Homo sapiens: one gene and its partners. The protein of the gene in region 2 purifies or fractionates together with the protein of the main gene of each other region. This does not show direct contact. Each region holds a gene or a part of one and is shown on either strand. Other genes may lie near its edges. The genes, in order: DNAAF4, CETN1, TTF2, LHX4, SPRYD3, PCID2 and CCDC191.

Region 1 (3,619 bases), on a different chromosome or scaffold from region 2:
GCTACTCAGGAGGCCTGAGGCAGGAGAATCCCTTAAACCTGGGAGGTGGAGGATGCAGCGAGCTATGATCAGGCCACTGCTCTCCAGTCTGGGCAACAAGAGTGAAACTGTGTCTCAAGAAAAAAAAAAAAAAAGGCTGGGCGCGGTGGCTCACACCTGTAATCCAGCACTTTGGGAGGCCAAGGTGGGTGGATCACGAAATCAGGAGATTGAGACCATCCTGGCTAACATGGTGAAACCCCATCTCTACTAAAAATGCAAAAAATTAGTCAGGCGTGGTGGCAGGCGCCTGTAGTCCCATCTACTCGGGAGGCTAAGGCAGGAGAATGGCCTGAACCCAGGAGGCAGAGCTTGCAGTGAGCCAAGATCGCGCCATTGCACTCCAGCCTGGGCAACAAAGGGAGACTTCCTCCGTCTCAAAAAAAAAAAAAAACCTTTAAAATTTAATTAGAGAATTACAGTAACTACAAGCAAAAGGGAAGCTGTGCTATTGTGCTTAACACTTGCATAATCCCAGTGATACAACACAAATGATGGTGCAGTCCAATACCAATACCATAATATTCCAGGTTAATATCTTACACTTTGCTGTCTTTTCTCCCCCTTGTCTACTTGGAGGTACTAGAAAACTATTTCACTCAAAAATTTATCTTCACCAGATAGTGTTATGAAATATGATCAGTTTTCAGGTGCACAGCCTATAAATGAAGTTGAATATAAGGTTTTCTAAACAGTTGTTTTATACTAGGCTGAACTGGTCTAATCTTGAACAACAAGCATTAGAGAAGTATTAAACAAAAAAATAAGGTTCTGTGCAGTTGGAAACTAACGGACAACCTGTCAATATTTATTATACCAAAGTCAACCATTCAGTCAATTAAATGGTATATTAATACAAACAAAAGTTATTTATAAATCTTTTATTTTAAAATTCTACCTTGTTAAAAATTAATCAGTAAGTGTCCTGGTAACTATACCAAAACATATTTTGTTACAAGGGCAAGCTTAATTCAGTAACACAAAAAAGTATACATATGTATTAATATGAAGAAATAAGGAATTAAAATAGATTCTTATTTAGATTTACTTATTCAGAAATGATTCAAGTCAAACAGTTTATTTTCTATAGATTTATAATATTTTGCCCTCAACAGAACTAAAGTACTAAACAGAAAGCGATTCTGTACAACTGGCCATAATATGTACAAAGATGCCTCCAGTTGTTTTTAAAAAACTTATAACAATACTTAGTTACTTCTAATAGTCATTAAGATTTTAGTTCTGTTCCTTGAATTACATTCCGAATCTTCTCAGCATCAATTTGTACAATTTTGTTGGATGGATCAATCTTAAGTGCCGCTTCATAATCCTGTAGGCCTGTGTTTATATAGCAATGATGATTAATACAATAAATATTTTATTAGCACTTCTTTTATCTAGACAATAGTTGTTTAAAATAAAAATAATCACTAGTAGCATGGTTCAGAACAAGTACCAAGTTTTAAATTAGATTCCCATCTTTTTTTTTTGAGACAGAGTCTCCTTCTGTTGCCCAGGCGGGAGTGCAGTGGCATGATCTCGGCTCACTGCAAGCTCTGCCTCCTGGGTTCACACCATTCTTCTGCCTCAGCCTCCTGAGTAGCTGGGACTACAGGCACCTGCCACCACACCTGGCTAATTTTTTGTATTTTTAGTAGAGATGGGGTTTCACCGTGTTAGCCAGTAGGGCCTCGATCTCCTGACCTCATGATCCACCCACCTTGGCCTCCCAAAGTGCTGGGATTACAGGTGTGAGCCACCGTGCCCGGCCCCTAAATCTATCTAAAATAAAATAAAATAAATGCTATATTTTCTGTATACATAGAGCTAAATTACAGAACTTAATACAATCTAACAAATATAAGCAATGTGCATGCACTATGGTGGATCAGTTATTTCCGAGCTTAGGTGTGTGTATACACACACACACACACACACACACACACACAAATACATACATACATACAGGGATGACCGAAGAAGCTCTCTGAGATAAATATCCATGATATCTCAAATCATTTATATATTTTATCTTTTTTTTTTTTTTTTTGGAGACAGAGTCTTGCTCTGTCACCCAGGCTGTAGCGCAGTGGCGTGATCTTGGCTCACTGCAAGCTCTGCCTTCCGGGTTCACGCCATTCTCTGGCCTCAGTCTCCTGAGTAGCTGGGACTACAGGCGCCCGCCACCACACCTGGCTAATTTTGTTTTTGTATTTTTAGTAGAGACGGGGTTTCACCGTGTTAGCCCGGATGGTCTTGATCTCCTGACCTTGTGATCCACCTGCTTCGGCCTCCCAAAGTGCTGAGATTACAGGCATAAGCCACCACACCCAGCCTATCATGTATTTTTTTTTTTTAAGAGACAGGGTCTCACTATGTTGCCCAAGCTGGTCTCAAACTCCTGGCCTCAAGCCATCCTTCCACCTCAGCCTCCCCAGTTCCTGGGATTATAGGCGTGAAGCACCACACCCAGCATTTATCACACGTTTCTATGAAGAGTTGTCTGGTAATATAGCATTTTTTTTTTTTTTGAGAAGGAGTTTCGCTGTTGTTGCCCAGGCTGGAGTGCAATGACATGATCTCGGCTCACCACAATCTCCGCCTCCCGGGTTCAAGGGATTCTCCTGCCTTAGCCTCCCAAGTAGCTGGGATTACAGGCATGTGCCACTACGCCAAGCTAATTTTGTGTTTTTAGTAGAGGGTTTCTCCATGTTGGTCAGGCTGGTCTCGAACTCCCGACCTCAGGTGATCCACCCGCCTCTGCCTCCCAAAGTGCTGGGATTACAGGCATGAGCATCTGCACCCAGCTAATATAGCATTTTTCTAGACTGAAACTTGTTGTTTACACTTATTTTAATTCTCTTCTACAATGAATTTTTTAAATATAATTTAGAAATCATGTATTGTCAGATATACTGCAGACATTACTAAGAATAAATTAAATGCTAAAAATATTTAAAAATGGAGTCCTTAAAAGTCACGATCTTAAATAATTCCAATGACATTTTTTTCAGAGTATAACTTGGGACTTAAACCATTTCTATCAATTCCTTACCTTCTACATACAATTCTAGTTGACAGAATGCTGTTCCACGTCGTACATGTGCCTTCATTCTTGCATTAGCATTGTCTGTAACAGGTGGCATCAATAATTCCAGTGCCTTACAAAATATATATAATTATTACAAGAAAGTTATAGTTTCTTAATTTAAACAAGCAAAAGGCTGGGCATGGTGGCTCACGCCTGTAATCCCAACACTTGGGGAGGCCGAGGTAGGTGGATCACCTGAAGTCAGGATTTTGAGACCAGCCTGGCCAACATGGCGAAACCCCGTCTCTACTAAAAAAAAATACAAAAATTATCTGGCTGTGGTGGTGCACACCTGTAGTCCTAGCTACTTGGGAGGCTGAGGCGGGAGAATTGCTTGAACCAGGGAGGCAGAGCTTGCAGAGAGCCGAGATCGCGCCACTGAACTCCAGCCTGGGTGACAGAGCGAGAATCCGTCTCAAAAAAAACAAAAACAAAAAACAAACAAGCAAAAACATGGTAAAAATTCTAATTTTAAAATAAGCCTCGGGT
Region 2 (4,484 bases):
TTTGTGTTCTACTTTTGTAAAGACTAAGAGACATGGCTGACCCAGCCAATGTATGATTAACTTATCTTAAAATTCAAACGCCAGTTTAGACCTGTTCCACTAGACCCTCCTCCCCTTGTCCCCATATTCTCTAGAGTATTAGCCTATTGAGAAGCAGGAGAATGCACTATTGAGTGAATTGAGAGGTTCTTCCCTGGCAGTGAGTGGGATTCAGAAATATTCTGGGGCCCCCTTTCCTTTTTTGGAGCGGACCATGCCCTTAGGCCACCCCTTTAAGGCTATGCATGGTGTGTGGCCAGCCCAACCACTGGGCTTCAGCCTGGGTTCCTGGTTTTCTCTTCTATCATCTGCCGGGCCAGTAGCCAAGGCTGAGCCCAGTCCAGTTGGCTGAGACTCTGCTTCTCCTAGTTTCTGCCAACTTTCTTTGTTTCTGGTATTTCTACTTTAATTCATACGTTGATCCTTGGGCCAAGACTCTGGTCAACAGGATACCAGGAACTCTTGCTTCCCAGAATGCCCCCTCCTTCCCCTGCCCTCAGATCAGGCCCTTCATACTGATGTTGGCCCAAGTTGCACCTGTTCCCATCCTGACTGCACCTTAGTCCACACTAAGACCTTGAACCTGAACTGTTAGCATCTTGCAGCCTGGGTGAGTTCCCCTACCCTGTGCCAGGCACCTCAGCAAAATCCTCACAGTGAATGCTTCCATACCCATCACTTCAGCTAGTACTGCCGCTTTGACAAATTAGTCCCTGTTAATGAGAATTAAGCCCAGGGTAGTTTGTTCCCCTGATTAGATCCACACCCTCTGAAGGGTAAAATTGCTGGCAAAGCAAGTGAAATGTTCCCAGAATTTGAGCATTTATCTTAATGGGGCTTTGTATGAGGATTTAATTTAGGTTTAGTTGTGACCAAAATATCCTGCCTCTTTGTTTTGTTGCCTGTTATTAAAACATTAGTCAAAGCCTCCATCTCAGCAGATCTATTTGTTATTTTCCCACAATTACATTTTTAAAATTTTCTTTAACTTCAGATTTGTAGCTATGCAAAATGATGATATCTTACTCCAAAGCAAAAAATAATTTATAACAGAAAACAAGCAGTATTAACACATAAACAAGCCACAGTGGAGCAGTTTACTGGGATTTGTAAAATAGAGCACTACTGAAATGCCAGACACTCTGACATCAACTATATGTCAGAGGGGCTAAAAGTCAAGTACCAAGAACCAAGATGTTCTAAGGATTAGCAGGGAGAGTGTCTCATAATCAAGCAGTAATAAGATGACTAAGGTTATAATAGTCCAATAACTAAGATATTTGTTGCTATTTCCAAGGACTATAAGTAGCTTAAAATGTTATATTAAGGTATTTGTTATAATTTCCTAAACTAAGATCCTACATTTGTAAATATTTACTCAAAATCGTTTGTTAGCGTAACCTCTTAAGCAAATTATACTTTGCTTGGGCCAGTATTAGATTTTATTTTTATTCTGTAGCCCAGGTATACATACTAGCCCTAGATAAACCCATGGTGGACAATTTACACATGAACGAAGAATCATTTGCAGGTATAAAGCCAGTGAATAGTCAAAATTGCACAACGTACTACCACCCAAGCAAGTCTATTCTTTATAAGATTATCTGTCCTGAGCTCCGTAAGTTTGTAAGTGGCCACCCTGTTTTCCTTCAAACTGGTATTCAGCTAAGTGGACAGGCTAGGCAAATCTACTGGCAGATTCCATCTCATTATGCTGGAACAATGACTGGAATTTAAGGAATGATATATGAAGCAAGATAATTTAAGACCACCAAAGAAGTGACAAAGGGAACCACATTTTTGTGTGTCCCAGAAGCTGTCCTGCCTCCAGATCAACAGATGAACAGCAAGTTCAGCACAGGGCAAATGGAGGGCGCACTCAAACTTCAGGGCCCTTTGTTTAACCTCATGTGCTCCAGGTTGACTCTTGAGAATTAAAACCCAAAACTCACATTACAAGCATCTTTCAAATTCTATTATTGAACTAGAGATATGGAAATAGATCTAGACAAATTATGGGGGTGAGGGGGTGAAGAAGGGACAGGCAGCCGCTGTCCTCTAAGGTTTCACAAAATGGAAGCAGGCAACCCAGAGAGTCACTTTAGCTTCTGAACCGACTTCAGTAAAGGCTGGTCTTCTTCATGATCCGAAGGAACTCCTCCTCGTTCACTTCGCCGTCCCCATCCCGATCAGCTTCGTCGATCATCTCCTGCAGCTCCTCATCCGTGAGGTTCTCCCCCAGCTCGTTGGCCACACGCTTCAGGTTTTTGAACGAGATCTTCCCGGTCTCATCGTCATCAAAGAGCCTGAAGGCCTTCAGGATTTCTTCTTTGGTGTCCTTCTCGGACATCTTCTGCGTCATCACGGCCAGGAAGTCATTGAAGCTGATCTTCCCCGTGCCTTCCCTGTCCACCTCGGAGATCATTTTCTTCATCTCTTCCTTCCTGGGTTCGAAGCCCAGCGCTCTCATGGCCACCTTCAGCTCCTTCGCGTCGATGGTCCCACTTCCGTCCACGTCGAAGAGGTCAAATGCTTCCCGAACTTCTTGCTTCTGATCCTCAGTGAGCTCGGGCTTAGGTGCCACCTTTCTCTTTTGGCCGGTGGAGGCAGCGCTGGGCTTCTTGAAGCCGGAAGCCATCCTGCCGCTCTGGCCGCCGTGGTCCCAACGGCACCGCCCCGCGCTCTCATTCGGGCGCCCCCCGCCGGCGCGGCGCGGGACCACCCCTCGCTCACTGCCAACGCCCACGCCCGCTGGGGCCTGGAGCCGGCCCGGGGAACCTCTTCCTACGCCCTCCCATCTGCGGGATCTTGCTTAGGCGAGAATCCGCTGTCCCCTCGGGTCATTAACCGGTTTCCACGAGTTGACGCCTGAGCTGGCAAGAACAGCCTGTAGCCACAGTTGTCTTCTGTAATCCACTGGCGCTGGCAGTTCTTTCCAAGATATGTGCTAGCATCCATAAGACCCCAGTTTTATAGGTTTCTTTAGGGACTCTTCCTCTCTCTCTCTCTCTCTCTCCTCTCTCTCTTTTGACAGGAGTGCACTGGTGCCACTCAGCTTACTGCAGCCTCCACCTTCCAGGATCAAGTGATCCTCCCACCTCAGCCTCCATAGTAGCTGAGACTACAGGGCATGCCACCACACCCAGCTAAATTAAAAAAAAAAATTTTTTTTTTTATAGAGACAGAGTCTCACCATGTTGCCCAGGCTGGTCTGAAACTCCTGGGATCAAGGGATTTCCCGCCCCAGCCTCCCAAAGTGCTAGAATTACAGGCATGAGCTACCAAGCCGGGCCTCTCCTTTTTATACCATTTAAAAAACCCTCTTGTTCTAGCGGCAACACCCAATGAGGTGACAGGTCCTAAGGGTAAATTTAGGATAATCAAGATTGAGTGTGATCACTTGACATTCAATGTGGGGAAGGAGAAGGAAGAGAGAATATTAAAAGTCATACCATGTGTTCAACTTGACATAAATGGGAAACAGAGAAAATGGAAAAATTTATGTATAAAATGCGTAGAAGTTTGTCTCCTGACATTACACTCAACAATAATACAATGTTTCTGGCATGTTCTCAAATATGAAATGTAATATCCAAATGTATGATTTACTTTCAGTGTTTCCATTTTACATACTCAGTATAATTGCACTTGAATAATGGTCATAATTTCATTCATGAGGCTTTTGATTTGGAGGGAGGGAAGTGGAAATACTACATTCTGGTATATTCTAGTATTTTCTTTTCTCTAACCTCCTAGCAGCACATTACTCTCCTTGCTTATCATCCAATCAGAGCTGTGCTGAAACCCACGCTCTGGTCGCCTTCCTTTGGCAATGGGCACAGGAGATGATGCAGGACATGTTGGGACTCAAAATTGCCTCCTGGGAATAAAGCGGTTCTCCTACAAACCAAAGAGCAAGAGGAAAATGGAAAAGAAAAAAAAAATTACCAAATAAGCCCACCAAGGAATTGCCTGTAGAATTACTTTGCATTCTTTTAAATAGTTACAGAAAAGAAAGCTGACTTATTTTTTTAGCATTCTCCCCCTGCCCCGCCCCCCCGCAATCAAATCTCAATCTATTAATATATCAATACCTTTTGTAACCTATGAAGGTTACAAAAGATGTCACTTTGAAGAGTTTGTGTTAAAGAGTTTTATGGCTGGGTGCAGTGGGTCACACCTGTAATCCCAGTAATTTGGGAGGCCAAGGCGGGAGGATCACCTGAGGTCAGGAGTTCAAGACCAGCCTGGCCAACAAGGTGAAACCCTGTCTCTATGAAAAATACGAAAATTAGCTGAGAGTTGCTGCGCACAACTGTAATCCCAGCTACTTGGGAGTATGAGGCACGGGAATCGCTTGAACCCAGGAGGCGGAGGTTGCAGTGAGCAGATATTGTGCCCCTGCACTCCACCCTAGGCAACAGAGTGAGATTCTGTCCCCAAAA
Region 3 (3,533 bases), on a different chromosome or scaffold from region 2:
CGTCAAGTCTAGGTATGACAAGGTGGGTCTTTGCACCTTCTAGCGATGGGCAGCATCCCACAACACAGTGGTCTAATTGAGGTGCTGCACTATGAGTCCTGCCTGTGTTAACCAGCCTTCCTTCATGTCACAATACTGCTGCTGGATTTGCTTTTTACATCTGCCTATTGCACCTGACTTGGGCATGGATGATATGAGGTAATAAATGCTTTGAAAACCATGAAGGGCCACACAAGTGCTAGTGTTATTGCTGTGGGACAAGGTCTGGGAATATGAGAACCAGCAGCAGCATGGGTGCAGCTGAGAACCAGATGGTGAACATCTGTCTCCAAAGTGCAACATTCCTGAGCACCGGATTTATAAGGCATTTCTTACTCGACAGAATTGACTTCATGGAAGGTATGTAGTTTGACTTTGCCTTAGCCATGTTGATCAAATAGGAGTATTGTGCATGCCGCAGCTAGACAGAGTCCTGGGCCCTTTAAAAACCTTGTCAGTGACTCCCATTGCAGGCCCAGCGCAGTGGTTCACACCTGTAATCCCAGCATTTGGGAGGCTGAGGCAGGCAGATCACTTGAGGCCAAGAGTTCGAGACCAGACTGGCCAACATGGCAAAACCTCCTCTCTACTAAAAATACAAAAGTTAGCCAGGCGTGATGTTGGGTGCCTGTAATTGCAGCTACTCGGGAGGCTGAGGCAGGAGAATCACTTGAATCCAGGAGGCGGAGGTTACAGTGAGCTGAGATCATACCACTGCACTCCAGCCTGGGCCACAGAGAAAGAACGGTGATTCTTTCTAGCAGAAATTAGCAGAGTAAGTGTTTTTGGAACAATTGCTAATGAAAAGAAGGAAAAACAGAAAAAAAAAATTTTCTGTTTATGGGAGGTGACTTATTTCTCTATCAATCCTGTGAGTGATTTAGCATGGCAATTCATGAACACTGAGTTGTTTCCTTGCTCTGATTGTCTGTTGCTCAATGAAATGGCTTTTAGCAGGGCTCAAAGGTGAAGCCAGATTCTCCTGCACTAATAGGATAAGCATGGAGACACCAGTGTTCAGTGTGGCCTCTGGTTGTCTGAAATTTTGCTGTCAACTCTAATACCTTGAAAGAATTAGGTTTCCAAAGTGGGATATTGTGCTGCTGTTTGTGATATAGCATCTAGACTTAGGAAAGGGCAGGAACAATTTAAAAGCACATCTGTAGGCACAAAGAGAATTATAATAGAAATTCAGAATTCCTAGGCATATGACCTAGACTAAAATGTCTTCATAACTACAAATGAAATCAGGGTCATTTATAGTACAAACTACCACAGAAGTCAGTAGTTAGGGGATGGAGATAGATATGAAAAAAAAAAAAAGCAAACCCAGCCTAACTCCCAGGGAGGGAAGAGGGGCGACAGATATGCAGCTACACAATGTTTTTACTATCTTGAGTTCTTTTTACCCAGATTCCATAGCTAAATCCAGATGTATTAATAGGTAGAGACTACTTCAGAAAGGATGAGACTATTTTCTTGCTTAATTATCCACACAGTAATTCAGAAATGTATATTGAACACTTTTTATATGCCAGGCACTGCTGGGCACTGGAAATATAAAAGTAAGCAAAAATGAAAAACTATCCTGTCCTCCTGAGGCTTAGCATCTAAGGGAGACAGGCATTAGTCAACCCCGTGTGGCTGTGAATCAGCCATGATGCTGAGTGCTACAAGAGAGGACTGTGCGGCTGGGAGGGCTTATAACAGGATTTGACCTAGTTAGGGAAGATCTGAGGAAGTGATGAAAGAATGGAAATCAATATGTAAGAGCTCACAAGTCAGAGTGAGATGTTTCTTCCTATACTGCCTGCTTCTAATGAGCATCCACTTCATTGAACCACCTCTTCATTGAGCCAAACCTACCATACAGGGATACATTCTCTGGAGGAAAGTTGAGCAACTATTGCATTTGGGACATTAGAGTATGGGTGGGCTGACAGGTATGTGTATGTTTATTATCCAAGACAGCCAAGGTGTTTATCCTGTTACAACATCCCAGAGGACAGAGGCTCTTATTTGTGACTCTTTTTTCTTACCTGTAACACCAGAGGCATAACGTACATCATAATGCTGCATCTTGTTGACGCTTCAATGCTCACAATTCAAAGGTGATTTCTGAAGCACTTTGTTACACTGGGGACAGCTCCTAAATCCTCCCACTCTTTTTTTGCCTCACCTTGGAGTCTTGGGCTCTGTTGATCACTGACTCTGCCAGGTCTTTCAGCAGGCAAGACAGCTCAGTTAAATTGAGTTTGGACTCCACTGTAGTGCATGCATGAGACAGCACCCCCAATCCCCAACACCCACACACAAACTTTAAATATTTGTAACAGAATTGTTACCATTAATATTGCTTAAAGGCTAACACATTAGCCAGAACCTAGATGTCTTCTGGAAATTTTTTATTGCAATGTTACTTCATCTACATAAAGTTGTCCAATCACTGAAACCTCCAACTGAAATAAATGGTAAGCTTTTTGTTCTCAATTCTGAAATCAGATTCATTAAAAGGCACATGGGGATAGATGATATAATACAACAGGCTTCTTCATGGGAAGCAGTTCCCTAGATGTATGAGGTAATTGGAAAATTCAAGGCTGGTCTCTCAGGTGCATATAATTTATCCAACAGACTCGAGATAAGGCTGATTTTTTTTCCAAGTGGTATTTGTTTAAATGACAAATACTGAGGTTCGGGAGAAGGGAAGTCTGGCTTATAAAAACAGATACCAAGGAGATCCAAACTAAAAATTCTACCAATTAGATCTTTATTCACTGATCATAATATTAAGTCTCTACTATGTGCCAGGAACTGTCCTACATCGGGACAGTATGGTAGTTTAAAAATATCCCTGCCCTCATAGAGCTTACAATCTAATATGAGAGGACAGACAACAAACAGAATATATACATGTTGGCCTGTAATCCCAGCACTTCGGGAGGCTGAGATGGCCAGGAGTTTGAGACCAGCCTGGGCAACATGGCAAAACCCCATCTCTACAAAAAATGCAAAAAATTCACCAGGCATGGGGTCGGGGGGGTGGTGTGCCTATGGTTCCACCTACTCCAGGGGCTGAGGTGGGAGAATCACTTGAACCTCGGGAGGCAGAGGCTGCAGTGAGCCGAGATTGTGCCACTGCACTCCAGCCTGGGTAACAGAGAGAGAGAGACCCTGTCTCCAAAAAAAAAAACCACAAAACAAAACATATATATATGTGAGATGGTGATGAAACTGGGCAACTCTGGGGTGGGAAGTTGCTATTTTGTACAGGGTAGTTAGCTAATAGGGTGATTTTTGATACTGGAGCGAGAACTTGAGAGGAACATGAATCATGAAGGTATCTGTGAAAAAAGCATTTCAGATGGAGGGGCAGTGATTCTAAAGGCCCCAAGACAGTGCTTGGAGTTTGAGGAGCACCAGGCAGACCAGTTTGGCTGGAATAGGGTGATGGAGGCGGATGGGTGGGCAGTAAGAGCAGGGATCCAGATCAT
Region 4 (4,405 bases), on a different chromosome or scaffold from region 2:
GCCCATCCCAGCTTCCAGACCTCAGCAATCTTGTTTCCTACTCCTGTCCCATGGTAAAGGGCCACTACCATTTCCCCCACCCTTCACTGCAAGTCTTAAGGAAAAGCCTGTGTTCAGGAGGGAGTTGCCAAGGCCTCAAGAAAGATCCCTCCTGAGTGCCAGGGATTACAGATTCCCAGGGGACTTTCCTAAGGCCTCGGCCTGGCCCCTCCAGCCCTGCTCACCTCGGAAGCTCAGCTCACTGTCACTAACCCCACAGTCCTCTGCAGAGCTCTCCTTCTCCTGCTTGCTGCTGCCCCGGCTCCTCTTGACGCTCTTATAGAACTGCCCCCAGCGGTGCCGCCCTGCATCCTTCTTCAGGCGTTTCTCTTTGGCCCTTCTGTTCTGAAACCAAACCTGCCACACAAGCACAAGGGACATACTCAGGGGGCGTCCACCACAAACCCAAAGCCCCCAGGACCCCCTAGGCGGGCGGCTGGAAGCAGACTGAAGCCTGAATGGAGCACAGGTCTGGGAGTGCGATGCGCCCCACCCCCTCTCCCCAGGTGGGCCTCAGAACTCTGTCTTCAGTTCTGGCAAAAGCCCTGGGGTCAAGCCCTGAGCCCAACCACCCGTGAGCTGATGTCACTCAGGATACCTTCCACCCCTGTCCCGGGCCTGGGATCCCCGGAGGGCACAGGAGTGCTGGCATCTCACCTGTACGACCCTCATGTCCAGGCCTGTCTCTGAGGACAGCTGCTCCCTCACGTGCCGGGCAGGCTTGGGGGAGTTCTTGTATGCATTCTTTAATGTCTCCAGCTGCTTGGCTGTGATGGTGGTCCGGGGCCGCTTAGCTCCAGCCTCTGAGTCATCTGCAAGGAAAAACCACTGCTTACTGGCTTCGGCCTATCTGCAGCAGCTGCGCCTCCTCCCACACCCTCCCTTCCATCCTTTCTGCACCTAAGCCTGCCTGCTGTAGGCAGGACAGCGCGAGGCACAGGGGACATCAGAGTGGAGAGGTCCCCACTCTCATGGCACTGACTCCTGCACCACGGGCCTTCCCAAGCCACTGAAAAGTGAGGACAGCAGTCCTTTCTCTGCTCAGCTCCCTGCCTCAACCCTCCCCTGCCAGCCCAGCTGCACAGAAGTCTCATCAGATTGAATGTACCCAATTCCACACGTCCCTGTCATGACAAACACTCTGCTCACACATCCTCATGAGTTCTTGCCAGAGCTGTGAAGGTGAACAGCCAGGTTGAAGTCATGTTCAAAGTCGCCCCAGATGCCCTCCCCTCTGTCTCATCAGGAGTCTCCCATTTCCCCACAGCCATGTCACCTTTGCCCTGGCGTCGCTGGGCTCACAGCCAGGGGTGAGCTTGCACACCCAACAGTGTCTAAGCAGGTTTCTAAACTATAGGTCAGAACCCACTCGTGGGCTGTAAAGTCACCTTAGTGGATCAAAACTAAAACAGGAAATCAGATGAAGAGAATGGGATGGAATGGCAAGATCATTTCATTAAACTTTAGTTTTTATTGTATAAATATGTGTACTGAGATGAAATGTAAAATGAGTTTTACTGTGGATTGTAGTCAAAATTTTTTGAGAAAACTAGTCTAAGGAATGTTCTGGGCAACACACTGACTGATCAACACAAAGTCCTAGACAGATTTTGAGTGAACAAGCTCAAGTTCCTGTTAGTTAAAGTCTGGTTTGTTCCATTCAAAGTCAGGTACAGAGAGAGGCGCGTGCGTGTGTTCGGAAGCACAGGTGAATGTAAAGGTTTGTTTCCTCTCCCAGCACTTAGGCATACTGCCCTTTTCTCCACAGTGCCCCTGGAGGACACACGGAATAAAGTCAGCAGCTGGCCTGGGCAGCTCTGCTCTCTGTGCTTGCTCACCTGTGTGCCCCAGAAGGTGTCTCTGTGACATTCCTGACTTCCTCTCTGTCTTTTCTCCTTTCTTTCCATTCAAGAAAACCCTCTCTTAGAAACAATAGTAGCCAACATGTGTTAGCACCTACCATGTGCTGGTGTTGACTAAGGACTTTATATGCATTCGGTCCTCACAATCTACAAGGCTCTCCCTGGAGTCAGCAGACCTGGCTTCAGTGTTCTTGATGAGTGAGTGACTTGGGCCAGTAACTCACTTCCCCCTTGGAAGTCCAGAGGGCAACACGGCCTGCCCTGATCTTGGGAGGCACTAGAGGAATGAAGCAGCTGTGCAGCCAGGACATGTGTGTACACAGTGAGGGGGGACACACCCGTGCCTTCCCTTCTCCTCGGGCTGTTTTCTTCTCTCACGTGGCCACTGTCATCCCGGAACTACTGTGGCCCAACTCCCTCCCTGAAGCCCTGAACCCGAAGGGTAGGGATTCCGGAGCCCCTGCCACAGAGACTACACTACTTAGAGAGTCATTCCAAAAGACAAAGGGGAACCTCCAAAATGCCTTCCTTTTCATTCTGAGGAGTCTGTCCCTTCTGTGCATATTTATAGTCTACACGGGAGTGTCTGATGCAACTTTGAATTATGCAAATGGGAAATAGTGCACTTGTGTACAATCTTTATATTAAAAAATGTGAAATAATGCAATCACCAAAAATGTTTTAATTTCTCGAGAATCACTTAATTTCAAAATAGCTTGGCCTACGGAATTATAAATTCTTTTCACCACAGCCAGATGGTAGCGCCACTGGGATAGACCCGTCATCCTGGTTGGTGGCCCGCTGGTTCGGCACTGCTACACACACAGGATTTTCTTCTTGCAATGATGGGGACTAATATGCTGTTATTTTAACATTCACTGTTATTATAATTTAAAATCTTTTTTATATCCCATAACAATGTCATCCAAGTATTCATTAAGTAGCAGTGGCAGTGCTCGTGCTGAAAAATGTACCCAAAAATCAATAACTTTGGTACGGAAGTTAAATGTGACAAAACGCTATGAGGAAGGCCAAGGGAGCCCATGATACCCTGGGCTGTTAATTTAGGAGAGAGCGTTCTGCAAGGTATTCAAGATAATGCTGAGAAAATAAAAAGTAGCATTAAGGCAAAGATACACTTCACTGGTTATGGATTTATGTGCTCTCAGAATATACCACCCCCCCCCCCACACACTCTACATTAATTCCTACAGGAAAATTAGTCTTAAAATATGTTAGTTTTGAATGATGCAGGGTCTCCTAGAACTTGTCCCTGGCATAAAACGCAACCTCATTATATTGAAAATGCAAATATCCAGGGAGACGGAACAAGTGAACAAAATCATTCACACTAAGGTGCAAGTAACTGCTCTGAGATCCTTTGTTTAGCTAATGGGAGGGAACTGTAAGCCTGCAGGAGGGCTGAGAGTAGCAAGGAGGAATTAAAACAACCTGAAAAGACAGCCAGGCATTCTGCAGTGGACAGAACTCCCCGCTGCTCCAAGGATCACCGATTGCCCAGGACAGAGGAGCCCTGCCTTGCTCACAGCCAGGGTGGGGTCAGGAAAGGACCCGGGGAACAGGCCAGAAATACTGTGTAACATTCCGCTGCTTTAAAACCTCAAGCACACCTCACCTCCCTGTTTGCACTTCTCCTCCACGTCAGTCTCTTATTTCACATCCCATTTCACAAGCCTCATCCTATTTAAACCTCAGGAAAACAGCCCTACGTGGCAGATGCTATGATCCTCCATAGACAGCTGAGAAGCCGAGGGTCAGCCAGTTCTACAACTTGCCAGGAGATCTCCCTGTGTGGGGGGATGCCCAGCCAGCTTCTGACAGCAAGTCCGGCATCTTCCATCATCCTGCAGAGGTCTGCTGTGGTGCAAATATTCCTCGATAAAACTGTGAGCACCACAATGTCATTCCCACCTCCCCAGCCAGATTCTGACCAATCTACATCTGTTTCTCTTGTCTCTTGAACCACCCACAACATCAGGAGATGCTGAGCTGAGAGTGCTCAGAGTCCAAATGAGGCCTCTGATGAGAACCAGCTGCAGGCCGGGGAGGTCGTGCCATCTTAGTATCTCTGATGAACGGCACTAGACTTCCAAAGGTGTCTTGGTATCTCTGAGTCCATCTGCTGTGATGGTTCATCCCTGACAAGTTGCCCTAATCTCCCATGACATCACAATTGACTTCAAGGCAATAGCATGGAGTGAGTTTTAAGAAACCAGAGCAGATTAGTACATTGCAGGCAAAGAGCCTTGGGATGGGTTTGCAGAGGCCCCAGGTCTCTGGAGGAAGGAGGTCAAAGGCCTCTGTCCACCCTGAAAGGCCAGAGCTGTGGGGGTGGTGGGAGGGAAGGTCCTCAAAGAGACAGGAAGCCCTGCCCACTCCTGCCATGGACCAAAGCCAAACCCAGCTCCAGCTGGCTCACCTAAAGGGCCCTTATGAATCCCCTCTGCTTCCTCACCACCACAATCCCCTTATTTTATACTGTG
Region 5 (4,405 bases), on a different chromosome or scaffold from region 2:
GAGAAGGGGACTGTGCACTGCACAGGGAAGGGCGATGCTCTTGACTCCAGAGGCCTTTCTTTTTCTTTTTTTTTTTTAAGACAGAGTCTCGCTCTGTCACCCAGGCTACAGTGCAGTGGCGTGATCTCAGCTCACTGCAACCTCCGCCTCCTGGGTTCAAGCGATTCTCCTGCCTCAGCTTCCCAAGTAGCTGGGATTACAGGCGTGCACCACCACATACGGCTGATTTTTTATATTTTTGGTAGAGACAGGGTTTCACCATGTTGGCCAGGCAGGTCTTGAACTCCTGACTTCAAGTGATCCACCCGCCCAGAGGCCTTTCTGAGTGGAGCAGTGTGTGCTGCTTCACCCTGCACTCACCTCTGCCTCTGTCACTGGGTGGCTCTGTCCTCATCCAGCAAGGAGGGGATCCAGCTGGGTAGGGGAAGGGATCACATCAGACACAGGAGGCTGCTGGGGTCTCAGAAGCTTCCTAGGTGCTTTGTTGAGAAGACTCCAGTGGGGTAACTGAGTCTTCTGCCACTGTCTCAGGGATTAGATCTAGTGAAGAGTGGCTGTTTCAGAGATAGTTGATTTCCTGTTTGGGGAAGGGCCATTCTATAGTGTACCCTGTCCACCAACTCCTGTATTTCCAGCCCCTTAGCTTGTGTGTGTTTCCTCCCTCTTTTCTGGCTTGAACCCCTTCCCTGACTCCTTCTGAGCCCATGCTCTCACAGAGTTCCACTGAAGGGGGAAGAAAGTAGTACTGTTTAACTAGAGGCAAGAAAGCTGAGGAGTGGGAACTGAATCACTGTCTTCCAATCGATGAAGGGCTTTGGTAAAGAGGATAGAGACCAGCCATTATTCTCCAGCTCCACTGAGGACAGAGCCAGAGGAAAAGGGCTGAAGCTGCAGCATGAGAGATTGAGGTTACACAGGGTTGTGAGACCTCTCTTAGGCAAGTAAGGGAGGCTCTACATTCTTTTCCTCCTGGAAATGAAGAAACCAGGCTTGCACTGGTCTGGTACGGGTTGGATTCCAGCTGGAGGCTGCGAGAGGAGTAGGGTGAGGTGACCTTAAGTATCTGGTTCTGATGTCTGCCGATGTACTGAAGTGCAGCCTGATGGATTCTCCTGTGTGCTGGCCCTTGCAGGGTAAGGGTGGGAGAAGCTGAGGCCCTCCCCCTACTCTTGGGCTAGGCTGCTAATGGAATTCCCCCCTCATTCCTCCTTCAGTTATCATGGAAACTCTGGTGAAGTTGGCTGCTACGTGGCTTCTCGACCCCTGACCAAGGACAGCAATTATTTTGAGGTGATCAAGGCAGTGGGTGGGCAGAGCAGGGGGTGAGCTTGGGGGTGAGATCATTAAGCCCCAAGAAGCTCCTTTACTAGATGTATGACCTGGGCCTTTTAATTTTCCATCAGGGCTGTCCTGTTGGCTGGGAAATAGGTGCAGGATAGCATGGCCCCTCATCTGAGAGATAGGTGCCCTGGAAACCTGTCACCCTGTCCCTTCTGCTCTCCTACCCCTTAGCTAGGTAGACTTTGACCCATATCCCAGACTTGACTCATGTCCCCTAACCCAAACCCACCATATAGGGACGTGAGTCCTATCTTTCTCCAAAGCTTTGGAGTAATTTTCTAAGTGAAATAGGCACCCACTCTCACCAATTGCCCCCTCTGAGTATCTTATCTTTTTTCCTGATTCCCATGTCCTTTTTCTTTTTGAGCCTCAGCGCCCTTTAATCTCTAAGTCCCCTTCCCCCACCCCCAGCAATTCATCCCATTTCCCAGCCCTGCTGACTGTGCCCTGCTTTCTTCTCTCCAGGTGTCTATTGTGGACAGTGGAGTCCGGGGCACCATTGCTGTGGGGCTGGTCCCTCAGTACTACAGCTTGGATCACCAGCCTGGCTGGTTGCCTGACTCTGTAGCCTACCATGCTGATGATGGCAAGTGAGTTGGCTCCTGTGCAACCCGGCCCTTTTCCTATGAATTTGGGAATCTTAGATCTGAAGAACTACCTTGGGCTGGCTTTTCCCATTGGGTGTTTCATAGACTTTTCTGGTCAGGACAGGGAAGTGGCCTGGCAGCACCCTTGAAGGCTTACAGACTAGAGGAGGGTGATGCTCACGCCAGGACGTAAGTGGGTACCATCACAGAATGACCAGGAGCAGCAAGATGAGGATGAGGCCTCTGCTGTCAGTGCTGGGGAGAAGTTGGGAGGCCAGGCTCGGGTCCTGTGTCTGTACTACTCTGTCTGTAGGCTGTACAATGGCCGAGCCAAGGGCCGCCAGTTTGGGTCAAAGTGCAACTCCGGGGACCGGATTGGCTGTGGCATTGAGCCTGTGTCCTTTGATGTGCAGACCGCCCAGATCTTCTTCACCAAAAATGGGAAGCGGGTGAGTGGGAAATAGTGGTGGGATTTACGTGGCTGAAATCTGCCCAAGGATTTGTGGGGAGTGATTAGGAAGAGTCTGCTGGCTGGGGCTTGCCCAGGGACCCTTGCACTGAGTTCCCATCTCCTCCAGTCCAGCCTCAGATTCTCCTGAAGTCTCTTGCGTGTAGGAGAAGATACTTCCCATGGCCAGAGGAAGCTGGGACATTGCCCAGATGACAGGCAGAGAGAGGCAAGTTAGTGGAGCAGAGGATGAGCAGGAATTGTGGGGAACAGAATTGGGTGATTTGGGGGAAGGTTTTGAGCAGATAAAAGAGAGGGGAAGATTATGGCCTGGCCATGTAAGCTGGAGGTCCTCTTTGGGTTTTGACTTGAGCACTTTTGGGGATATGTCCTTTCTGTGTCCTGTTTTCCTTGTTTCACGTCTCTTTCACTATCCTGTTCGTAGAGAGACTAGGCGTGGTGAGGAGATGGGACAGGAGCCAATAGTAGAGAGAGACACACAGCTCTCTCCCTTCTCTCCAACTCCATCTCCCACATTGGGAAATTGGTTTCTCAGGCCTTGGCCAAGGGGTCCTGCTGCCTTAGCATCTGCGCCTCGGCACTCTCCTGTCCAGCACACGTACTGAAAGTATTTGGCAGCAAGTCAGGAGACTTGTGTTTGTCTTCTAGCTCTGTACATACCTTGCTTAGCCAGGAGTACTTAGCACATTTGGAAACTTTTCTGCACCTCTGGGTTGCTTTTTTTTTTTTAATCTGTCAGTGTGTGTGATAATTATTGGTTGCATCATCTTTTTTTTTTTTTTTTTGAAATGGAGTCTCGCTCTGTCCCCCAGGCTGGAGTGCAGTGGCACCATCTCGGCTCACTGCAAGCTCCGCCTCCCGGGTTCACGCCATTCTCCTGCCTCAGCCTCCCGAGTAGCTGGGACTACAGGCGCCCGCCACCACGCCCGGCTAATTTTTTGTATTTTTAGTAGAGACGGGGTTTCACCGTGTTAGCCAGGATGGTTTCAATCTCCTGACCTTGTGATCCGCCCACCTCGGCCTCCCAAAGTGCTGGGATTACAGGCGTGAGCCACCACGCCCGGCTGGTTGCATCATCTTAAAAGTACCCTTGTGAGAATTAGGTGAGCTATGGAAAAGCAGGCCGGGTGGCAGCTCCGTCTTTCCCCCCACTGCAGGTGGGCTCTACCATCATGCCCATGTCCCCAGATGGACTGTTCCCAGCAGTGGGCATGCACTCCCTGGGTGAGGAGGTGCGGCTGCACCTCAACGCTGAGCTGGGCCGTGAGGACGACAGCGTCATGATGGTGGACAGTTACGAGGATGAATGGGGCCGGCTACATGATGTCAGAGTCTGTGGGACTGTAAGTAGCGGGTGGGAGGGTGGGAGGGGCTGGGTCGGAGGAGGCTGGGCAGAACACCTGTGGGCACATGGTCATGTCTGAATTGCTGGGAATGGGGAGTCGGGACAGTGTCCGTGTGGGGTTTGGCAAGATAGCCTAGGCTCTTGACATGAGTCCTTGAGTCCAGATCTGTGTTTTCTTTAGCACATGTTCTCTTTTCTTCACTTCCTCCTCTTCAGGGAACTCAGGTTCGCAGTTTGACCCTGGGAACAAGTAGTTCTGCTTTGCCTTTTTTGGTTCCTTCAGCTTCTGGTGTCTTCTACAGCCCTGCACAACTGCCTTTGAGGGGCTGGGGGTTGATCTGGAGGCAAAATGCCTGGCCCAGGCTTTTCATTCAAAGTGTTGTGGGGCAGGTGTGGTCAGAAGTCCACACATGTGGTGGAAGGTTCTTAGCCATCTTTTTTGAGGAAGTGTCAATGTCAGTTTCTATTGTCTTATCCCTGCATTTGATAGAGGATTAGAATGGAGGCAGATAAAGATTCAGTGAGCATCCTTACACCTCCAAACTTGCTTCATTTATCTTTTCCTCATACCTGCTTTAGTATGGATTTTAAGCTTCGTTGGGAAGCGTGTGGAGCTTGAGAAAGGGGAATTCTTCCTCCCCGGATTTTAAGTTTTGTTGGAAA
Region 6 (4,405 bases), on a different chromosome or scaffold from region 2:
CATTGTGCCCAGCCAAAACATTTATTTCTTGAAGCAAAAAATGGGTACAATTAAGACTCAAAGTCCCGAAAGATCCTGGAGAAATCAGCTAGCATGTACTATAATATTTTTAAAAATTGAGAAGTCTGTATTACTCCAATTCTTTCACAAACCAAATCTTTCTTCAATTATTTCAAGTTAAGTCAGTCACCAATTTTTCAAACCTGCACTGCATATGTTACTAAGCAACTAAGCTCTCTCTTCAGTCCCTGAAGTTGGCTAGTCAAAACACTTGAAATAAAAACGTTTAACAAATATTAAAGTCATCACTGAGTTTGACTTTTCCCTCGCATTTGGGAGGATGGCCTTGGTTAAAGAAGAAAGAGTCTGTTTCTGCCACTTGTGTTCTCCACAAACCCGAGGCCTGCAACAGGCTTGCAGATGACCCACAGCTCAAACTATATTCACAACAACACTAAGCCATTATGGTCTTTTTTTACTGTATTAACGTTTGCACTGATGGTGCAAAAACAGCAATAGGTAAAATGCTGGAGTGCTCCCACCGGCACCAAACTACGCAAGTAATCACCACGTTCTTAAACACCAGACACTCTGCAATCAATCAGTCAATCAACAAACCAGTAAAATTAGTTTCCTTTAAAAAATGTCCTCGATGAGCCAAGCACAGTGGTTCACACCTGTAATCCCAGCACTTTCGGGAGGCTGAGGTGGGAGAATCACTTGAGCCCAGGAGTTTGAGACCAGCCTGGGCAATATGGCAAGACTCTGTCTTAATTAAAAAATTTTAAATTAGCCCGGTATCATGGCGTAGACCTGTAGTCCCAGCTACTCAGGAGGCTGAGGTGGGAGGCTTCAGCCCAGGAACTCAAGGCTGCAGTGAGCTATGACTGCACCATTGCACTTCAGCTTGGGTGACAGAGCAAGACCATCTCTAAATAAATAAATAAAATGTCCTTGATAATGCAGTAAATATGAATTTTCTTAAATCTTGGTCCTTGAGCACACGTTTTTTATATTCTTTGTGATGAAATGAGAAGCATACAGCACTTCTGTTGCACACGGGTGTCTCATGGCTGTTTACAGAAAAGCTCTGGGCAGCTGTCTGAGCTGTGAGCTGAACTAGCTGCTTCTTGCAGAACAGAAGACAGGCAGACACAGCTACCCAGGCTTGGGCATCTGGCTGACCATATTCTCCAAAACGAATAGAACAAATCTGTCACTTCCAGGCAAACAACTGATGGTACTCGTTGCCAATGACAACATTTGTGCTTTCAAGAAAAACCAGAATTCTGGAAAACTTTTATGAACTACTGTGAGCTTAGCAGCTTTTCCTTACTCCAAGGCTTTTCTGATGAGGCCCCTGGAGATGTTAAGGAAGGTAGGGGTTTGGGGGTTGGGTTTTTAACAGTGGTATATCAGCACTTGGGAGGTGCTGCATGGCTCAGTAAGCTAATATACTCCAAATGGTCTGCTATGGTCTGAATGCTTGTGTCCCCTCCAAAACTCATGCTGAAATCCTAACCCTCAAAGTGACGGTGTTTGGAAGAGAGGCCTTTGGAAGGTGATGAGGTCATGAAGGTGAAGCTGTCATGAATGGGAAAGAGAGATCCCTTGCCCCATCTACCATGTGCAGACACAGCAAGATGCTATGAGCCAGGAAGCGGCCCTCTTCATCAGAAACTCAACTTGATCTGGACCTCCCTGCCTGACTTGATCTGGACCTCCCTGACTTGATCTGGACCTCCCTGCCTCCAGAACTATGAGACATAAATGCTTGTTGGTTACAAGCCAACCCAGTTTATAGTATTTTCTTATAGCAGCCCAAATGGACTAAGACATGACTAACACAAGATATTACGAAATCCATTCAGTGCTTTAGGCAGACCAGTGGATTTCAGTGTAAAGGTAGAAAAAGTTTATTGGTACACTTCAGAAGCCACATTGTAACTAACCTTTTTAAAAAAAAAAAACTGCCTCTTGGAGTTTTCCTATATAGAGTCAAAGAATTATCTCAATGGTCTGGAAAGCCTATGAGAATATTCCTCTCTTTTCCATCTACAACTTTGTGATGTAGCCTTTCACCATCAGGCAGAGAAACACTTTACTCAAAACAGTGTACTGCAACAGAGTAAGTGCAGAAGCAGGCAAGGGGACCAGATTGCCTCTGCTGAACTAGACATCAAAGAGGTCAAAAGTGATGTGACACTACTTTTCTTAGTATTTTGTTTTGGAAATATAGTTATTTTTTATTTAAAAAGTCAGTTATGTTACATGTAAAAGGTTTATTATTGTTGCTTTAAAATGAATATTTTAAAATCTTTTCTAATTAAAATTTCTAATACAGTAAATATAAATAGATATAACAAAAATAAAAGCTTTCTGAGGTCTTCAGTATACTTTTCAGTTCTAAAATTTCCATTTGGTTCTTCTTTATATCGCCTATTTCCTTGTTGAGACTTTAAATGTTTTCATTTGTTTCAAGCATGTTCTAAATTGCTTGCTGAATCAAGAGGGCTGTTTAAAACTCTTGTCACATAATTCCAACATTTGTACAATCTCAGCCTTGGTGTCTTCTGCTGAATGTTTTTTCTCATTTGAAATCTCTGAAAGTTGAGATTTTCCTGGTAATCAGTGTCGATTAGATCCCGGACATTTGAGGCACTACCTGACGAGACTATGGACTTTATTTATCTTGTTTAGCAGGCCTCACCATGCAAGCAGAGAAACAGGTGCATCCCCTTAGCCACTGAGTCGGGGAGGTCTAGGTCCCCTGCTTAGCCTCTGACATCCACCTGGTGGGGAGGGGGACTAGCTCCTCATTACTGCTAGCCCAGGGTGGAGGTCCTGGGCCACCCCCAGTCCGCACCACTTTGCAGATGGGGTGGGACGGACCTGCTGACTTCTTTGCGCCTGGCACTGGAGTGAGGCAGTGACGGTCAGAGTTCTGTCTTGCTGGATTGGACTGTCTTCCCAGCCTCCTGGTTTCCTTGGGGCTTTTTGTCTCTGCCTGATGGTGAAAGGCTTCAGGTTTCTAACGCGCCCAGTCCAGGACAGACAGGAGACAAAAAGGAAACCTGGAGACTCCCTACACGTGACTCTGAGCCCCATCCCCCTCTTCTCTCCACCTCCCATAGCCATGCCGGCCTGACAACTCCCAGGGTTTTAACTGTTTCTAGCAGGCACAATAGGGTGAAATCCATTGCATCCTGACTGGAACTGAAGTCAACAATCATTTCTAAAACTGTAAAGGGGTCGTCCTAAAACCAAAAGGTTGACAAATGCTGCTCCATAATGGGGACTTCCGTGGGTCCCCATGGGGACGTCGCCTCCATAAAACCCAGGATCTCCCTTCACCCCAGGGAAGCCCCCTCCTACTGCCCAAATCTATATGAAGCTGAATTCTTTTTGGTGGGGGAGCAGGCCACATCTTAAAGGTAGAAGAGATGCAGAATAAGCTCATTTGTTGTTGTTCCACTCACTTCATAAAAATAACACATACCATAAATGGTTAACCACAAAATGGAACCTCTCCCTCTATATGAACAGTGTGGAAATCTGAGCAAATGTTTATATAAATCTGTTGGTGTTAACCCAGAAAGAATAGTCAATATCTTTCTTTTGCTCCCTATACCAGACACATCTCAACTCCAATTTGCTCCTCAAAACTTCTGGGAAGAATGACATGAAATTAAACAACAGATAGTCACCAAGTTTTAGTTTTAAAATAATAATGACAGCAAATTAAACTTACATTATTGGCAAACACTCGAAGGTCAAGCGCTACTGCATACATGACAGGCAGAGCCCTGCAGGGCAAAAAAGTAAACAAGTGTGAGGGGCTACGTGGGCCAAGATTCCATCCCCAGAGGTGGGAAGAACACGGACACCCAGGGCTACTATCCAGAATGGAGTCCGCACTTATCCAAAACTCTGACAGTTGTCTGCTTCCTCACCTTCTGTCCAGGCAGGCTGCAGGCCTCAGACTTCCTGATCATCCTGGGGCCCCACAATGCGGTGCTCCACACCCCTGTCCCCAACCCTGTCAGAGACCTCAGCCCTGCTTCAGTTCTGGGCTCCCAGGATATCCTCCTCCCCTCAGCTTCCCACCAGTATCCAAACAGCACCACTAAAAAAGAAGTGGTTTGATCAGATTTCCTAACAGGAACCAGAATATGTAATACACAAAATGTCACAAAACAACTTTTACAGCCAACTGGCAAAACTGGACTGTTTTCATGTGCAAGTTTTCACGTTAAAAGATAAAAGGGTGGCGGGAGGCAGAGGCTGCAGTGAGCCAAGACTGCGCCACTGCACTCCAGCCTCGGCGACTGAGCAAGACTCCTTCTCAAAAAAAAAAAAAGATAAAAGGGCGGGTTTGTTTGCAAAAGGCCTTTGGTTATTTCAG
Region 7 (4,405 bases), on a different chromosome or scaffold from region 2:
TTATGTGTAACATTTTGGTCCCTTCCCCTAGGCAATGTATCTACCTTTATGGCAGATAATTTTGTCTCCATTGAGACCCAAGACAGACTTCTATCTTAAGAAAGAGCTGTATGGAACCTTTTACCTTACAAAGTGCCACTGTTCTTAAATGAAAAAAAAAAAAAAGTCAGCAGAAAGTATTTTTTACCTGTGCAAAACAGAAAAATTACTATATATATGTAGTAATTTATATATAGTAATATATATAGTAATTTATATATATAGTAATATATATAGTAATTTATATATATAGTAATATATATATAGTAATTTATATATATTTAGACTCAAGGGAACAAAAGACTCCAAATCTCTGAAATCAAGAACAAAAGACTTTATCAAGAAAGGACAGTATTGTTAAAAATGGAGCAAATGATAATAGAGGGCTACAATAGACCCTGTAGAGACTAAGTAAACTAATCTTTTTCCAGCGTGTACAGCAAAACATGACCAAGTGAAAATATAAAATCTTTAGTTAGATGCTCATTAATTATACAGTCATAGGAACTCATGTACTAAGAACACACAAACTGTACCTTGAATTTTTCCAAAATTATCAGTTAGCTAATAGGTGATTTTCTCTAATTAAGTCAGACCATTCACTCCTGCTCTATTAAGTACTATCTGTACCACTAAGCTTTTCCTTCATGTTCTTTATTTTCATGTTAAAAAGTTACCATGATCCAAAAGAAACCCTGTCGCTTTACTCAGGGCTTTGACACAGTCTTGCTAGGTTAATAAGGTGTCATTACCACCAAGTTTAAAAGAACCTAAAACATATACCCTGCTTGATATAAATTGCTTAAGCAGGTGTTCTCATGAATAAGTGTTCACTGACATTACTGAAATAAAAGGTTACTTTTAAAAGTGTTTAACATGTCAGAGTTTCCATATATCACATCTTTCATTTCAGTTGAGTCTATGGAAAGCATTTCTATAATCGTGAAAAATATTTTTGAGTCCCTAAGGATGGGGTCCTGTTAGAACAAGAAGCTTCTGATATTTAGATAGCTCATAGCATTTTTCTCTTTAAGCCATTGCAGATGGCAGAATCAAAAACTTAGACCTTAGAACATGGACTCAAACCATTCTAGAAGAGACACTTTAATATGACATTATTTTGGCCAAGATAGCTGTTTCTAAATAAAAATTCTTGTTTCCTTCCCCTCTGTATAGAACTTGTAATTGAGTATGGTACCTCAGTCTATTAAATGGGATTTATGTAATAAAGCTTTGAAAACTAGTGATATGCTAATACAAAATATTATTAGGTAACATTATTCTTATGTAATGCAGATATTTGCCCAGTGATCCTGAGCTTCCAAATATTTCCCACCCATAGATAGTTTGTAATGCAGATATTTGCCCAGTGATCCTGAGCTTCCAAATATTTCCCACCCATAGATAGTTCAGGAATAGCTGGAAACGGTTAGCTAGGCTTTAACGGGACCTTGATGCTGAAATAACTAAATATCCTATACTATGGCATATGATTAATTTACTAGTGTCAGGAGAGGCATTGAAAGAAAAGAGATATATTATTCATTTGTAAAGATATTCTTTGGTTTTCAGACATTCTCGAGAAAGAATATATCCTTTGCCACAACATCTTCAAATTTCCACTAAAATTCAGAGTCAATTTATGCATATTAAATTCATGTTTTTTATATATAAAATATATATATTTATATATATATATATATATATATATATATATCTGGAGTAACCTTGCCTAATTCACAAATGAACTGTCCAAATTAGAAATTTATAAGAGAAGATTTTTGCTATTACGAATGTCCTGGCCCATGGCAATGGTTCATACAGCTGTAGCCACTCTCCCAGTTTTCTTTTTTTTTGAGCCAGGGTCTCGCTGTGTTGCCCAGGCTGGAGTTCAGTAGCACAATCTCAGCCCACTGCAACCTCCACTTCCCAGGTTCAAGCGATTCTCCTGCATCAGCCTCCTGAGTAGCTGGGATTACAGGTGCGTACCACCATGCCTGGCCAACTTTTGTACCTTTAGTAGAGACAGGGTTTCACCATGTTGGCCAGGCTGATCTCAATCTCCTGACCTTAAGTCATCTGCCCATCTCGGCCTCCCAACGTGCTGGGATTACAGGCATGAGCCACCACAGCCGGCCACTCTCCCAGTTTTCATGGTGAGCAGCAATGCATGTTTTAAGAGTGGTGGCCTCTGAGGTAGCCAGGCCAGGAGCACAGACCACCTTTACCTGCAATACATGGCAGTTGTGCCATTAAACAAAACAATACTGACCTCATAAATGTTGGATTTCATCAGCACAGTCCTTTAAATAGTTGAGCTATAACATGTTTCTCTCTCTCAGGAGACTGCTGTGCCCCCTTTGTGGGAAAAGCCTCCCTTGGGAAGCAGTGGTTGTATGCTCAGTCCTCCCCTGGGAAGAACAACAACAGGCAACTTGCAGGGTTCCCTTCAGAATGTCTCTCTGAGTGCACCTGGCAATAAGCAGCACAAGACCCTGGGTGCTGAACCCTCTCAACAGCCTGGCAGCAACGAGACACTCAGAACTACCAGCCAGAAAGCAGAACCGCTTTGCTTGGGTCATTTCCACAACCGCCATGTCTTCCAGCAACAGCTGATTGAGAAGCAAAAGAAGAAACTTCAGGAACAGCAGAAAACAATTCTCGAGCTGAAGAAAAACCTGCAGCTGGCAGAGGCTCAGTGGGCAGCAGAGCATGCCTTAGCAGTCACAGAAGCACAGAGCCACCTGCTGTCAAAGCCCAGAGAAGAGGAACCAAGAACCTGCCAGATGCTTGTGAAGTATGTCTGTTCTATCAGAACTCGCTGGACTCATTTTAAGGGGTTTTTCACTTTGGGCTCCTGAGCTTCTTTGCCCTGCTTCTGAGCCCCATGATTGTTCCTTTTCCTTGATTTTGCACTCTCAAAGCAAAGAAGCCTAGTTATGACTAGTATATGACAGGCACAGATAGTCAAGGATGCCTGTAAGGATCCAGTTATACTGTTAGCATTTGGGTCACGGCTGCCTTTGAGGATCTCTGTTACTATGCCAGTTAAAGAGAAAAATGCTGTCTTGCTCTATTTCTGGGTTTCTAGCTATGTTAAGTGCTGAGAAGCCAAGTCAGACAACATCAGGTCCACATGGAGCAGCCCCTGGGCTGGCTTATTTCCTAGCTTAAATTTGTAGTTGTTAGGGATAAAACAAAACATCTTTGAGCCTCAAATAAGAGCCCAAGTTTCTCAAAAGCCACGTAAGATGGTTTCAGTTGTGCTTGAGACATACTCATTGCATGTGGTAAATGGTAGGATAAGATGTGGTGACACCTATGGATTTGAAGCATTAGGATGGGAGTCACAGTACCTGACTCACTGTGTAGACTCATGCCGATCACACAACCTTTCCATACCTCATTACACATATTTATGGAGTGGATATAATATGTAGTTATCTCAGAGAGTAGGGATTCATTAAGGTCTGTAAAAGGCTTTGAGCATCTCAGGTCAAAGGAGTTTGAAGGAAACTGGTTAGTAGTCTAAATTCCTTTCCTTTATTTTTTCCCTAGTTCACCTGTTGCTTCCCCTGGGACTGAAGGCAGAAGTGACTCCCGAAATTCTCTTTCTGGACTCAGAAGGAAACCAAAGCAATTGATGACACCGCATCCCATACTAAAAGGCAGGGCTGTCTCGGTGGTGGCCTTGGTGGTTGTTATCTTCTCTCCTAGAGTAGAATGTGTACACTGGGACTGAATTCTGGCAACTCTTGAGGTTTTGAGACTTGGCAGAACCTGACATCAAAAATCTCAGAATGGTAGACATGTGAGGAGTGGAGTACACCAGAGAGCCCCACTACTTTTTTCCTGCCCCTTTTGCCAACCTTTTTGGCATTCCCAGCCAACACACACACAAAAAAACATAGCTGAAAGGTATATCATTTTTCTGTAATTTGAGATTTGGATTGTGAAAAAAAAAGGAATAATTACACAAATGAGAAAACTCTGAGTAACTGCCAAGGACAAACACTGATAAAGGACACCTGTCATTGTACTTTGTTAATGTTCAAATTTGATCAGTTTACAGTAATCCAAGATAAGTTATTATTTTATAATATTATAACTTGTTGATAGGATTTTAGTAATAAAACCTACAAACCAGATATGTTAATTTGATAACATTTTTGATGCATCTAGAAACATTTATTTATTTGGTACAGGCAGGGTCTTCCTGTGTTGCCCAGGCTGGTCTCAAACTCCTGGCCTCAAGGAGTCCTCCCACCTCAACATCCCTAGGTGTTGGGATTATAGGCATGAACCACTGCACCTGGCCAGAAACCCTTATTTAAACTAAACTATACGAATAGAAGCATTCTTCAGA

What was found.
Region 1: the proteins of CETN1 (region 2) and DNAAF4 purify together in Homo sapiens (affinity purification with mass spectrometry; 2 studies listed by BioGRID and IntAct, with this or other methods). This does not show direct contact.
Region 3: the proteins of CETN1 (region 2) and TTF2 purify together in Homo sapiens (co-immunoprecipitation; 3 studies listed by BioGRID and IntAct, with this or other methods). This does not show direct contact.
Region 4: the proteins of CETN1 (region 2) and LHX4 purify together in Homo sapiens (affinity purification with mass spectrometry; 2 studies listed by BioGRID and IntAct, with this or other methods). This does not show direct contact.
Region 5: the proteins of CETN1 (region 2) and SPRYD3 purify together in Homo sapiens (co-immunoprecipitation; 3 studies listed by BioGRID and IntAct, with this or other methods). This does not show direct contact.
Region 6: the proteins of CETN1 (region 2) and PCID2 purify together in Homo sapiens (affinity purification with mass spectrometry; 2 studies listed by BioGRID and IntAct, with this or other methods). This does not show direct contact.
Region 7: the proteins of CETN1 (region 2) and CCDC191 purify together in Homo sapiens (affinity purification with mass spectrometry; 2 studies listed by BioGRID and IntAct, with this or other methods). This does not show direct contact.

The regions. Positions count from the first base shown.
Region 1 is NC_000015.10:55,429,403-55,433,021, forward strand, and holds the end of DNAAF4 (dynein axonemal assembly factor 4), read right to left. Parts: intron 3,201-3,619; coding exon 3,095-3,200; intron 1,378-3,094; coding exon 1,268-1,377; 3' UTR 906-1,267; downstream 1-905.
Region 2 is NC_000018.10:578,602-583,085, reverse strand, and holds CETN1 (centrin-1), read right to left. Parts: upstream 2,707-4,484; 5' UTR 2,678-2,706; coding exon 2,159-2,677; 3' UTR 972-2,158; downstream 1-971. UniProt on the Homo sapiens protein: Plays a fundamental role in microtubule-organizing center structure and function. Plays a role in sperm cilia formation.
Region 3 is NC_000001.11:117,104,925-117,108,457, forward strand, and holds the end of TTF2 (transcription termination factor 2), read left to right. Parts: 3' UTR 1-2,529; downstream 2,530-3,533. UniProt on the Homo sapiens protein: DsDNA-dependent ATPase which acts as a transcription termination factor by coupling ATP hydrolysis with removal of RNA polymerase II from the DNA template. May contribute to mitotic transcription repression. May also be involved in pre-mRNA splicing.
Region 4 is NC_000001.11:180,267,826-180,272,230, reverse strand, and holds part of LHX4 (LIM/homeobox protein Lhx4), read right to left. Parts: intron 2,579-4,405; exon of another isoform or gene 852-2,578; coding exon 697-851; exon of another isoform or gene 397-696; coding exon 225-396; exon of another isoform or gene 1-224. UniProt on the Homo sapiens protein: May play a critical role in the development of respiratory control mechanisms and in the normal growth and maturation of the lung. Binds preferentially to methylated DNA.
Region 5 is NC_000012.12:53,072,621-53,077,025, reverse strand, and holds part of SPRYD3 (SPRY domain-containing protein 3), read left to right. Parts: intron 1-1,214; coding exon 1,215-1,290; intron 1,291-1,806; coding exon 1,807-1,931; intron 1,932-2,241; coding exon 2,242-2,377; intron 2,378-3,554; coding exon 3,555-3,740; intron 3,741-4,405.
Region 6 is NC_000013.11:113,191,320-113,195,724, forward strand, and holds part of PCID2 (PCI domain-containing protein 2), read right to left. Parts: intron 3,807-4,405; coding exon 3,752-3,806; intron 1-3,751.
Region 7 is NC_000003.12:114,003,939-114,008,343, reverse strand, and holds part of CCDC191 (coiled-coil domain-containing protein 191), read left to right. Parts: intron 1-2,381; coding exon 2,382-2,836; intron 2,837-3,597; coding exon 3,598-3,707; exon of another isoform or gene 3,708-3,957; intron 3,958-4,405.